Regions from separate parts of the Homo sapiens genome. Here region 2 is linked to region 1. Evidence: fine-mapped expression QTL. Tissue or cell type: whole blood. Region 1 holds a variant in brackets; the other region holds the start of a gene. All regions are shown on one strand. Distances are from middle to middle. Region 1 overlaps AQP9 (aquaporin 9). Region 2 holds the start of AQP9 (aquaporin 9).

Evidence for each region.
Region 2: AQP9 starts here. The variant in region 1 is fine-mapped to the expression of AQP9 in whole blood (TOPMed, PIP above 0.99).

What each region holds. Positions count from the first base shown.
Region 1 is chr15:58,172,374-58,177,754 of GRCh38, reverse strand. It overlaps AQP9 (aquaporin 9), which reads right to left. Exons shown (of 6, transcript NM_020980.5): 3 at 4,550-4,687; 4 at 2,719-2,837. Among named protein-coding and RNA genes, the nearest start is that of AQP9, 37 kb to the right of the region's middle. The variant G/C (reference allele first, on the strand shown) is at 2,212.
Region 2 is chr15:58,135,702-58,141,082 of GRCh38, reverse strand. AQP9 (aquaporin 9) reads right to left here and starts at 2,702. Exons shown (of 6, transcript NM_020980.5): 1 at 2,407-2,702. The coding sequence starts at 2,517.

The DNA.
Region 1 (5,381 bases):
ATTTATTATGTGCCAGGTACTTCATATGCTTTATCTCATTAAAACTTCACAGTAATGCTGTGAGGTAAATCCTGCTATTATTCTCAGTTTATAGATAAGAAAACTCGAGTAAAACAAGGTTAAGACACTTGTCCAATGTCAAACTTGTAAGCAGAAGAATCAGGATGGGAACCAGGCAACTGATTTTAAAGTTTAAGTTCATTATCATTTCATCTGCTTTCCAAAATAATAATGTTAAAATAATTTTTAATTAATATTAAAAGACACATGTTCCCCCAAGAGCACTCTTCTCTGGAATGCCTTCTCCAACTCTCTCTTGCAGAGTAAAAGCTCCCTCCTCTGGGCTTCCATGACATTCTGACTTTACTTGTATCAGTGTCCCTGTCACTCTGCAAAAGAGTATCTACTTACTTGTTAGATTGAGCCTCAGACTCTGAACTCCTTGAAGAAGGAAGAGTATAGAGCTGTACTTGGCTAAGTAGGTGCCCAGTAAATAGTTATTGGGTAAATAAATGATTGATTATTAACTAAACCAAGGAATATGCTTGAAGAGTATTTACAGCTAAACAATTTAGTAATCTTGAAATAAGGTGACCCCAAAATATGGTCATGATGGCCAAGAGCTCTGTTGGGTGTTGACTGACTGATAATTGGCAATTTTTGGAACTCTCTCCAAAGCCTAAGAATACGGACAGCATTCAGGGTTTGCTGACGGTTACAGCCTCAGGGTTTTCTAATATTCGCTTTTTCTACTTGACTTTATACACAATAATGGGCTTAGAAACCACAGACCTTAGAGAAATTGCCAACTCACTCTGAGACAAGGACACAATGAAGGAAGCTCAGGATATGGTATGCAGGTCAGCATTGATCAAGATACAGCTTTGGGAGGCTTAGGCAGGCGGATTATGAGGTCAGGAGTTCGAGACCAGTCTGGCCAACATGGTGAAACCCCGTCTCTACTAAAAATACAAAAATTAGCCAGGAGTGGTGGCTCACACTGGGAATCCTAGCTACTCCAAAGGCTGAGGCAGGAGAATTGCTTGAACCTGGGAGGTGGAGGTTGCAGTGAGCTGAGATCACGCCACTGCACTCCAGCCTGGGGCAACAGGCTCAGTCTTAAAAAAAAAAAAAAAAAGCTTAGAGAAAAACACCAAAATAACCAAAATTGTCCTCGCTCTTCTATGCTCTCTGCTTCAAATTTCTATTATAATATGGTCGCTATACTCCAGTTTCCTATCTAATTTTCTTCTTTTTTGCCCAGGCTGAGGTGTGGTGGTGTAATCATAGCTCACTGCAGCCTCCAACTCCTGGGTGCAAGCTATCCTCCCACCTCAGCCTCCCAAGTTGCTGGGACTACATGCAAGCACCACCACGCATGGCTAATTTTTGTATTTTTGGTAGAGGCAGGGTTTTGCCATGTTGCCCAGGCTGGTAGTGAACTCCTGGGCTCAAGTGACCTGTCCACCTTGGCCTCCCAAAATGCAGGGAGTAAGATGTGAACCACCGTGCCCAGCTCTGTCTAATTATATCTTATTTTGCATTGTTTCCTTGTTCAATGCTCTTCAACTAGATTCAAAATTTCTGGGCAGATACTGCTTACAATGCGTTTTTCTCATATTATTCTTTTTATCCTCATAAGTAACTTCATGAAGGCTCATATTATCCCCATTTTACAAGTGAATAACTTGCGACCCAAAAAGTTCAGTACTTTGCTGAAGCCACGCAGGAAGTTGGAGGCAGAACAGCTATTTTAATTCAAGCATTCAGACTCTGCATCTTGGATCTTTACAACTCACATTTACTCGTCAGTCTTTCAAGCTCCAGACAAAGGGCCAAGCACATAGTGAGTTTTTAATGAACACTTGTTGCCTGTTTGATTTATTGATGAAAGTGGAAAGTAAAAAAGCTGAGGACATGAGGGCATAGTTTTTCATCCATACATTGAATGGAGGTGGGCATAGCTGATGAACTGGAAGATCCATTTTATACACATGCCCATTCTGATCTGCTCCACTGTATAAGTCCTGATCATAGAGGAAGAACTTAGAGATACTGAAAAATATAGCCTTCCTTCCACTGCCCTGACCAAGATAACCAGCAGCCTTCTTGGGACACAGTAAGGGAAGAAGAGTCTTTTGAGTTGACAATGTTAGTCCTGCCATAAGCTGACCAAATAGGTGTGCTATTGGTTACACCACAGTATGCTTG[G/C]GTGCTAGAAGCTTGTTTAAAGGTCAATAAGCAGAGATACTTCTAGCCACCTTGAGAGTTTAAATAAATAAACCTATGCACATGGTGAGACAGAGAGGATTGATGATCCCCTAGGCTCAACTACCACCCTTCACAGTCTTTGATTTGAAATAGAAATATCTTCTCTTGTGGCCTCCACACTTAGACCACTTGTTCAAAAGAGTCAATAGTGAAGTGAAGTCCATTTGTGTCTACAGGGATTGAAATGTTTAGTCATTCACTCTTTTCTGGATCTCAACTAATGTTAAACAAGTGTACGTATTAAAGAGGAAGGAGAAAACTTTTCTGGTGGTATCAGCTCCTTGTAAAGGTAAAACGATTATCAAGAAAGCTTGGGTTATGCCCAGCAACCTCTGCCTTTGGAAATATAATCTCTCCTTTCTGATTGGTCTCTAATTCTCCAATGCATTCCCCTTATGAGAGCATATCTTTTCACCAAAGTTAAGTCTTTGTTGAATCTACACTTACTTGATCTGCAAATGCGTTCGCCAGAGATAGATACGGAGCTGGGTATGTTGCAAAAATGTGTGCTGTTGCATTTTCTCCCACGATCAGCAGTTTTCCACCAGCAAAGGACATAAGTCCATCTATGAAAGAGAAAGCTCTGGCACATTAGTGTTCCCTGGGAAGAGTTGAAGGAGGCCTGTGCCAAGCCTTGTGCTAAACAACCAGTCACTCAGATTGAGCTTGGCATAGCCATGTCATTTGTCTCTCTCTACTTCCGAGGAATGATAGTTTTAGAGATGCCCAGGTGAATCCCAGGATGGAGGGTCAAAGGAAGAAGGCCTTTGGCCTCTCTGAATGGCCCACTGCAAACTTGGACAAATTATTCTTCGATAGGGTCCTGGGAATGAGTTCTCTTTTGGGGGAATTCTTGGAGTTTTCGAGGTCAACTGTAAGCCAAAGTGGGGCTTGGTCTTGCTCTAGGAATAATTTATAATTCCCAGAGGGCTCTCAGTAACCCCTAATACCACTCCAGAATTTGAGGGTGTTGCAGTATACTGAAGATGCCCTTAGAGCCAGGGGTATTGCAGCCACTGCCACAGCTAGCACTGACCCCAGGCCATTCTTGCCACAGCAGCGGGCTCTGAATTTCCTGTGTGTTCTTGAATTCCATTTTAGCCCTTTTAGACTCTAATTCTCAGAGAGACACTCTATGGGGAAAAGTCCCTTTCCATAACCTATTTCTTTTCCTTTTTTTTTTTCTTTTTTTTCTTCTTTGGAGACAGGGTCTTGCTCTGCTGCCCAGGCTGGAGTGCAATGGCATGATCCTGGCTCACTGCAGCCTTGATCTGGGCTGAAGCAATCCTCTTATCAGCCTCCTGAGTAGCTGGGACTACAGATGTGAGTTACCACACCTGGCTTATTTTTAATTTTTTTTTCTGAAGAGACGAGGTATCCCTATGTTGCCCAGGCTGGTCTTGAACTACTGGGCTCAAACGATCCTCCCACTTATGCCTCCCAAAGTGTTGGGATTACAGGCATGAGCCACCACACACCCAGCCCTCCATGACCCATTTCTATAAGGCCTGGTTCATAAATTCTACTTCCTAAGGTCTTCAGTTTGGGTAAGTCATAATGTATTAAGGCTTACCTTGGGTTAGAAGGAAGGAGCTGCTTTAACAGTTGATTTCATGGGAACACCAAGGTGTTTTAGTTTGAAAGGCCTCGAGAGTCATCTGATTCAATTCCCTCATTTTCCAGAGGAGGAAACTGAGGCTAGTCAGATCAGATGACTTATTTAAGTTGCACAGGTATTTACTGAACAGCTAGAGCTAAAGTCTGGTCTTCTATGACCAATACTGTGTTTTTCCCAAGGACTGTTGCAGAGTGGAAGCCCTGGCTGTTTGATAGAAGGGCAATGAGGCTCCCACCCAGCCCACATCTCTGCTGTGTCTCTTCCTTCAAAGACATCTTCCCAGAGTCCTTCTCTCAATACTTACTGGTCACACCTTTGTCACCAGAAAACACCTCTTTTCCCAGCCAAATCAGAGACAGCAGTGGGGAAGCCACTGGCCTACTGCTTGTTGTATGGATGTGTATGTTGCAGTGCTGGCTTGGCACAAAGACAGGCTTCCTTTAAGTTCTGCTCCCCATTTAAGATATGACCATTTTCATTAACAGGATTCACGAATTTGCTGGAATGGTAATATGGCCTCATTTTCTCAAATTTAGAACTTGCTGTCACTTGTAGAATGCTTCCCGTCCTTGCTTTTTCTCGCCTGTGCCTACCAAGTAATTCTGACTTTCAAATTATGCCCAGCTCTTCCTAACCTTAGGACTCAGGGACTTTACTCACCATAGTAAATGCCAAAGACGGTTGCAGCCCCCACAAAGGCTCCCAAGAACTGGGCTCCCACATAAAATGGCAATTTGAACCATTTCATCCGTCCAAAGAGACACATTGCTAAAGACACAGCTGGGTTGATGTGACCACCTGCAAGGGAAGATTGGAGAAGTGAGAGGGCAGGTTAGGAAGAAGAATATACAGAAAACCATCTAGAGACCTCAGGTGGAATTCAGTCTTCTAGGCAGAGAACTACTGCCTATGAGGAGAAAGAGGGGTGTGTATGCACGTGAAAGAGAGAGTGTGTATCTGAGCAGGGAGAGAAGGAGGAATGATCATTTTCATGGCATCCTTGGATAACAGTTTAGAATGTTTATCTTGATGAAAAGAGAGTCAGGTATAAAAAGAAACTTGATGTGCTCAAGTGGCTGTTTTTTTAATAGGCTTGAATCCCTCTATCTATAAAGCAGTCACCCCAAACAGACTGATGTAGCTATTAACTTCGATATCTTTTAAAAGTCAATATGCTTATCCAATATATGTATAAGATTTAAATCTATATCTAGCAGTTCCTCCGGCCATGCCCAGAGGATATAAAAACAAGCTCAAAAGAGATGTATCTTTAAAGGAAAATGACTGTGGGTTGCTGAGGGTGGGGGCATAGTTGATTTTGAGGTGGTCACAGTGTGAGTGGCTTGTTCTCAGTTCCTCTGCATAAACAATGCATTTCTCTCCTATACAGAAATGTAGCAACCCTTTCCTGAGCCCAGCCCAAGCTCCAGCTAGAGAAATCGGCTTCCTTGACTTGCATCCAGCCATAAAATCAAATAGAGAGTTTGCTCTG
Region 2 (5,381 bases), 37 kb after region 1:
TGACTAAAAGGCCAAATTAGAGCTAGCTTTTTGGCTTATGACTTAATTGTTGTTGGTTTTAGTTGTAGTTTATAAAGAATTTTTCATGGACCTTCTTTTCTCTTAATGCTACCAGTAGGCCTTATCAGTCCTTTATACCAACTGTTCCCAACCTTTTAGCACCAGGGACCACCTGTACCAGTCCGTGGCCCATGTGTTGGGGACCCGTAATTTATACCATGGTGTTAGATTAGTTTGAGATGCTCCCCATAAGAGCAGTTTTTGAAAGGAGGGAAAAAAAATAGAACCAGACTCCCAAGGTTGGCGGAAAAAAAACAATCTCACATATTTGAAAGACTGAGTCCTTTATATCCTCTGCCATCTTTTCGATGTTCCCCTTCCCTTTGCCTTATCAATGTACAAAGCTTTTTACTAGAAAATACAAGGCAAAATGCACATTCTCTAATAAAGCAGAAAATTACTTTGGATAAACTTTCAGCAAAACCATGTAGATTTCTTGGTTTAAAAAAATTGTGTTTGTGCAGGAACTTTTTGTTTATACATCCCCACAAGCTCCAACAAAACTGAAGATGATAATCAAGGTTGCAGATTTTATTAGGGTTCACTTTAGAAAATAAATGTATAGTATAAATGGAAATTAAATATTTCAGGAAATGACTGGCTTTATCCAGAACATACAAGTTTTAATTTTTCAACAGACAATATCAAGATGTTCTTTATTTAGCCCCTACCTTGCATAGTGGGGAAGACACAAGGCCAGTTGAACAGTGAACTGCTGAAAGCAAATTTCACTTTCAACACAGAAAGCACGGGATTATGAAACAGGTTCTTCTTAAGAAATACAGAGGGTTTTAAACTTTTTGGTTGCAAAAAAAAAAAAAAAAAGATGTGTAGTTCATTTCCTCCTCTGTTTTCTGCAGAGCACTAAGAATTGTAACTGAATTTGCTTCACTTTTCTGACTCACTCGTCACTGTGAGGCTGTAATCACTCTGTATTGACAACTGCTTCTTTGGGGCCAGATTGTCAAGTAACATGACAGAGGGGTCTCAGTCTCACTAAGAAAGATTTTCCAGTAAGCAGTGACCGGGAATCATAAGAATCACTGACTTTCATCTTCTCTCTTTTATTTCTTTTATTTTAGTTAGAAATAACTACTTACATAATGTCTTACTACATAATGTCTTGCTACATTATGACAGTGAGTGTGGTCAGAGCAGCCAGGAATGAATGCCAAGGGAAGATGAGGAGTGCAAGAAATTGTCCGTAACTCCCTGAAAATACTGTAACGAATCTGGTCTAATGTGTTTCTCAGAGACCAGAAAACTTATGACTCTCTCTTCACATTCCACTAGTTCAATTTTTTGAGTTCACATTTGTTTCTCATTCTTGGCTTAGCTGATGCATTCCAAGCTTATTCTTCTAAATTATTATGTATTTGCCCCAAGCAAAGAACTTTTAATGCACAGAGTTTATGGGCTATTCTCTATAACTTTAAGGAAAATGAAATTATTTATACCTGGAGTAGGAAATCCTTAAGCAGGATAAAAAAAACCAGTTGAAATCAATAGTTGCCACATGATAATACATTTCTATTCACAAATGGCCTGGTTCCAGGTAAAACTTCAGGATACAGAGAATGCTAGAACGTGCAGCAAAATGAAAGCCCAGACCACTTAAGTAAACTTTCCAGTCTCTTGTTAATAGCTGAGTAAATCTCTGGGCAATCCTCAAGAGGTTCTTAGAAGTCGTCCCTCGTTTATATCTAGAAGGTTCTTGTAATTGTCTTGTAAATCTCCAAAGATATTTAGAGATTACTTTGCTTTAAATAGAGACCAAAAATGACACAAAACTAAAGCTGGACTATTGCCTGGTACACTATTTCTACCTAGTGCAATTTTTAATTTCTTAAAAATCAAGTGATCTGACAGCACAATACTTGTCAAGTACTTGTCATACTGAGATGTTTCTTGCCATCCATATGTATATTTTTGCCAACTATATTTATTGACTATTGATGCTTATTCCAGGTGGCTGAGTCACCCCAATGCTTGGAGGAAGCAAGCAGGGTACAAATCAATTGATCAATGAAAACACTAACGACTGACTTTTAAATCACAAAGCCATTTTAGAGTATAAGTAAATACCTGAAATAAAGAAGGCACTTCACTCACTCCTTCTCTTCCATTCCCATCAACTTTTGTGGGTAAATGCAATAGGTAATTGAAAACTTAATATCACAACCCCTAAATAGTCAAACAGCCTCTAGTAACTTGTTTCTTCCTGGAAAAGATGAATCTGATCCCAATTAACTTAAATAAAACAAACCAAACAAAACTCTCCACTACCAGCCTGGCAGCTAGGGAGGCATTATTGGGTCTGAATGTAGGAAATCAGGAAATACTTACAATCAAGATGAACGTGCCCAAGAACTCAGAGAGGGTTTCTTTCGCTAAGCTGCTCTTCAAGACCAGTCTCTGCTTGAAGCTTTTTCCCTTTTCTGCTCCCTCAGGCTGCATCTTGGGGCTTCTCTGAGGACTCCTGTTTCTACCAATACCTACCTGTTGTGGTCCTCACTTTCACAGCCAGATGAAAATGGACGTTTTGACAATGGCTCACAGATTCCTGGAGATGTCTGGTAAGAGTCTCTGACTGTACAAATGCCGTTCCAATTAGAGGCTGTGGCTTAATCGTCTTCTGGTGGAACTGTCATTCCCTGTTCGCTGCTATTTGTTTGAATCTGCGACTTAGAACCCGAAATCCCCAAAACAATCCCTTTTGTGCCTGACAGATTAATCATTACCTTTATTCTCAAGGTACTTTTTTCTCTGTTGGTTTTTTTCAAGAGATGAGAAAAGAGATGTGCCAGTTGTGTTGCCAAATCACAGTGACGGGCCCTGGTCCAGAAAAGATTTTCATGTTACACAATTGCAGGCTTCTGATTTTTTTTTCTTCTCATTCAGAAGTGGGTGGTTGGGGTGTAGTTTGGAACTGTCAAATCAGGTGTAGATATATCCAATGTTAACATTCTTTTCTGAAAAAGGTTTTTATGCAAAATGAAGAATTTGAAGAAAATATAGATTTATCATCCTAGAAGATTAATCACTCTTGTTTTCTTCTGGTATCATTTCAGTGGCTTCATGATACCACTCTGAGGTTAGTAAGAACCACATAGGCCATCCTAGAGATGGAGAAATTAACATACAGAGAAACCATTGCAAGCTTCACACTGCAAGTCTGTAGGACAGATGGAGTCACCTCTTCGGTTATGAAACTGGGCTTCACTTGCTGAAGATACTTTAGGATCCAAGAATCAGAAAGATGGAGGAGTCACCTTTTTGGTGACTTCTGAAGTTTCTTCTGAAGAAACATTCCAGTTTGGGTTTCTTCTGAAGAAGCATTCCAGTTTGAAAATAGTCACTCTTCTTCATTCACCATGAAATATTTAGACATAATACATAGGAAATAAACAATAGCAGCTTGAAATTCTTTACTGCATGGAGATGACTGAGCCGGAAAGAGATCAATTAGCGTGTATGTCATTCTAATCAAACGAGAAAGGGAGCCAGTACACCTAACCGAGGCTCCTAGGTTATACCCTTTCAATTTGATAAATTGACATCCTTGCTGGCAAGAAACTGTGTTTGGGAGTAGCTCCTTGTCCTGCCAAATATTCAAGCCTTGTTTTTCAAAACTGGCTTATCTGAAGAAATAGAATATAGCATTAGTTTCTAAATAGCAAGGCAGGCCTAGTTTCTGATTACCAATGTGGACTCATGGAATTAGTATCCATGCTGTGTGGTTCCTTCCAGTCCTCCCACAGGGAAGCCAGCTCTGCATCAGGCCCTCCCCTAGCTTTGCAAAAAGGGAGGGAGGAGAGGACATGGAGAAAGCAGCTGGTGAGAGGCCAAAGGCAGAAGGAGACTTCTCATCTGTAGGTGACATTTAGAATTTAGACTTTAAAAAGTTATAACCTGCCTGAGGCCACACTACTGCAGAACCAGGACAAAACCTCAGCACTTTGGCTTTAATTCCTGATGAAGTTATCATAAATACCATTGTCTAGAAGAGTTACCTATGACCACACCATTACCAAGTCCCAGTGGATGGACCAGAGAAACAGGACTTTCTTACTGTGACTACAGCTAATAACATGCAAGAGCGTTCTCTGGTCTTCCCATTCACTCATCTAACAACTATTTACTGCACACTCATTATGTGCCAAGCACTGCACTTAACAAGAGCACATAGGGTTCTTGTCCTTCACAGAGCCTAGAGTCTAGTGAAGCAGACAGATGTAAGTGAAATAATCCCACACACATAAATACAAAATCACAACTGAGATGTATGCTGCAAAGATGGGGGCCATATTTCCATAAGCAAATATAGCAAAAGGATTTGACTTTGTTGGAGAGATCTCTGATGGCTTCTCCAAGGAAGTCATGTGTGGACTGAGATCAGAAAGAAGCATGGGATTAACTACATGAAGTGGGGAAGAAAGTGCATGTACAAAGTCCTTGGTGGCTTTGGGGGTAAGGGGTAGGGGACAGCATGATGCCTCTCAAAGAATGAGAGAAATTTACTGTGGTTGGCCCCAGAGAGAGTGAAGGAGTACAGCATGCAAAATGAGCCCTGAGGTGTGGGCAAGGGTCAGACCTTACTAGGCCTTGTAAGTGGTAGTTAGGGCTAAAAGTGTAAGTCATTAAGGTGGTTTAAGCAGAAATACGACATGATCAGATTAGAGTTTTGAAAAGATCCTCCGAGCTGTGAGGTGGAGAGGGGATTGGAGGGGGCTTGGAATGGTCATAGGCAGATACATTTGGGGGTATTACAGAATTCCAGAATTGGGTGGTAGTTTGACAGTGGAGAAATGGAGGGATCCAAGAGTTCTTTATATCTTAAAATTGGAAGAATTTCATGGATTAGATGTGGGAGATGAGGAAAAGAGACTGAGAAAAGTTGGTTCCTGAGTTCCTAACTTGCTGGGGAAGGTGCTGCTGAGCCCTGGGAGAGGAAATCCTGGAAGAGGACCAGAAGTGCAGTGGAAGATCATTAATTCTGCTTGTGCAAAACTGAGCCTCAGAGGCTTCTGAGCGATGTAAGTTAGGAAGTGATATGGGTCCAGATGAGGAAGGAATGTCTGTGTGCTCATAGTGGTGATAACTGGAGCCTGGAGTAAAGAGGCTCCCTAGGGAGAGAGTTTGAAGAGAACTGAGAGTTTGATATGGAACATTTCATGCTTAGGTAGAGGAGGATGGAATCTTTATTATTTCTGTTTTACTACCTTCAATTGACAGTCACACTTCTCACCTCCATCACCACGAACAGCTCATCATCAAACATAGCTTACTCATACAAAATATTCACTGAACAAAATGTTCCA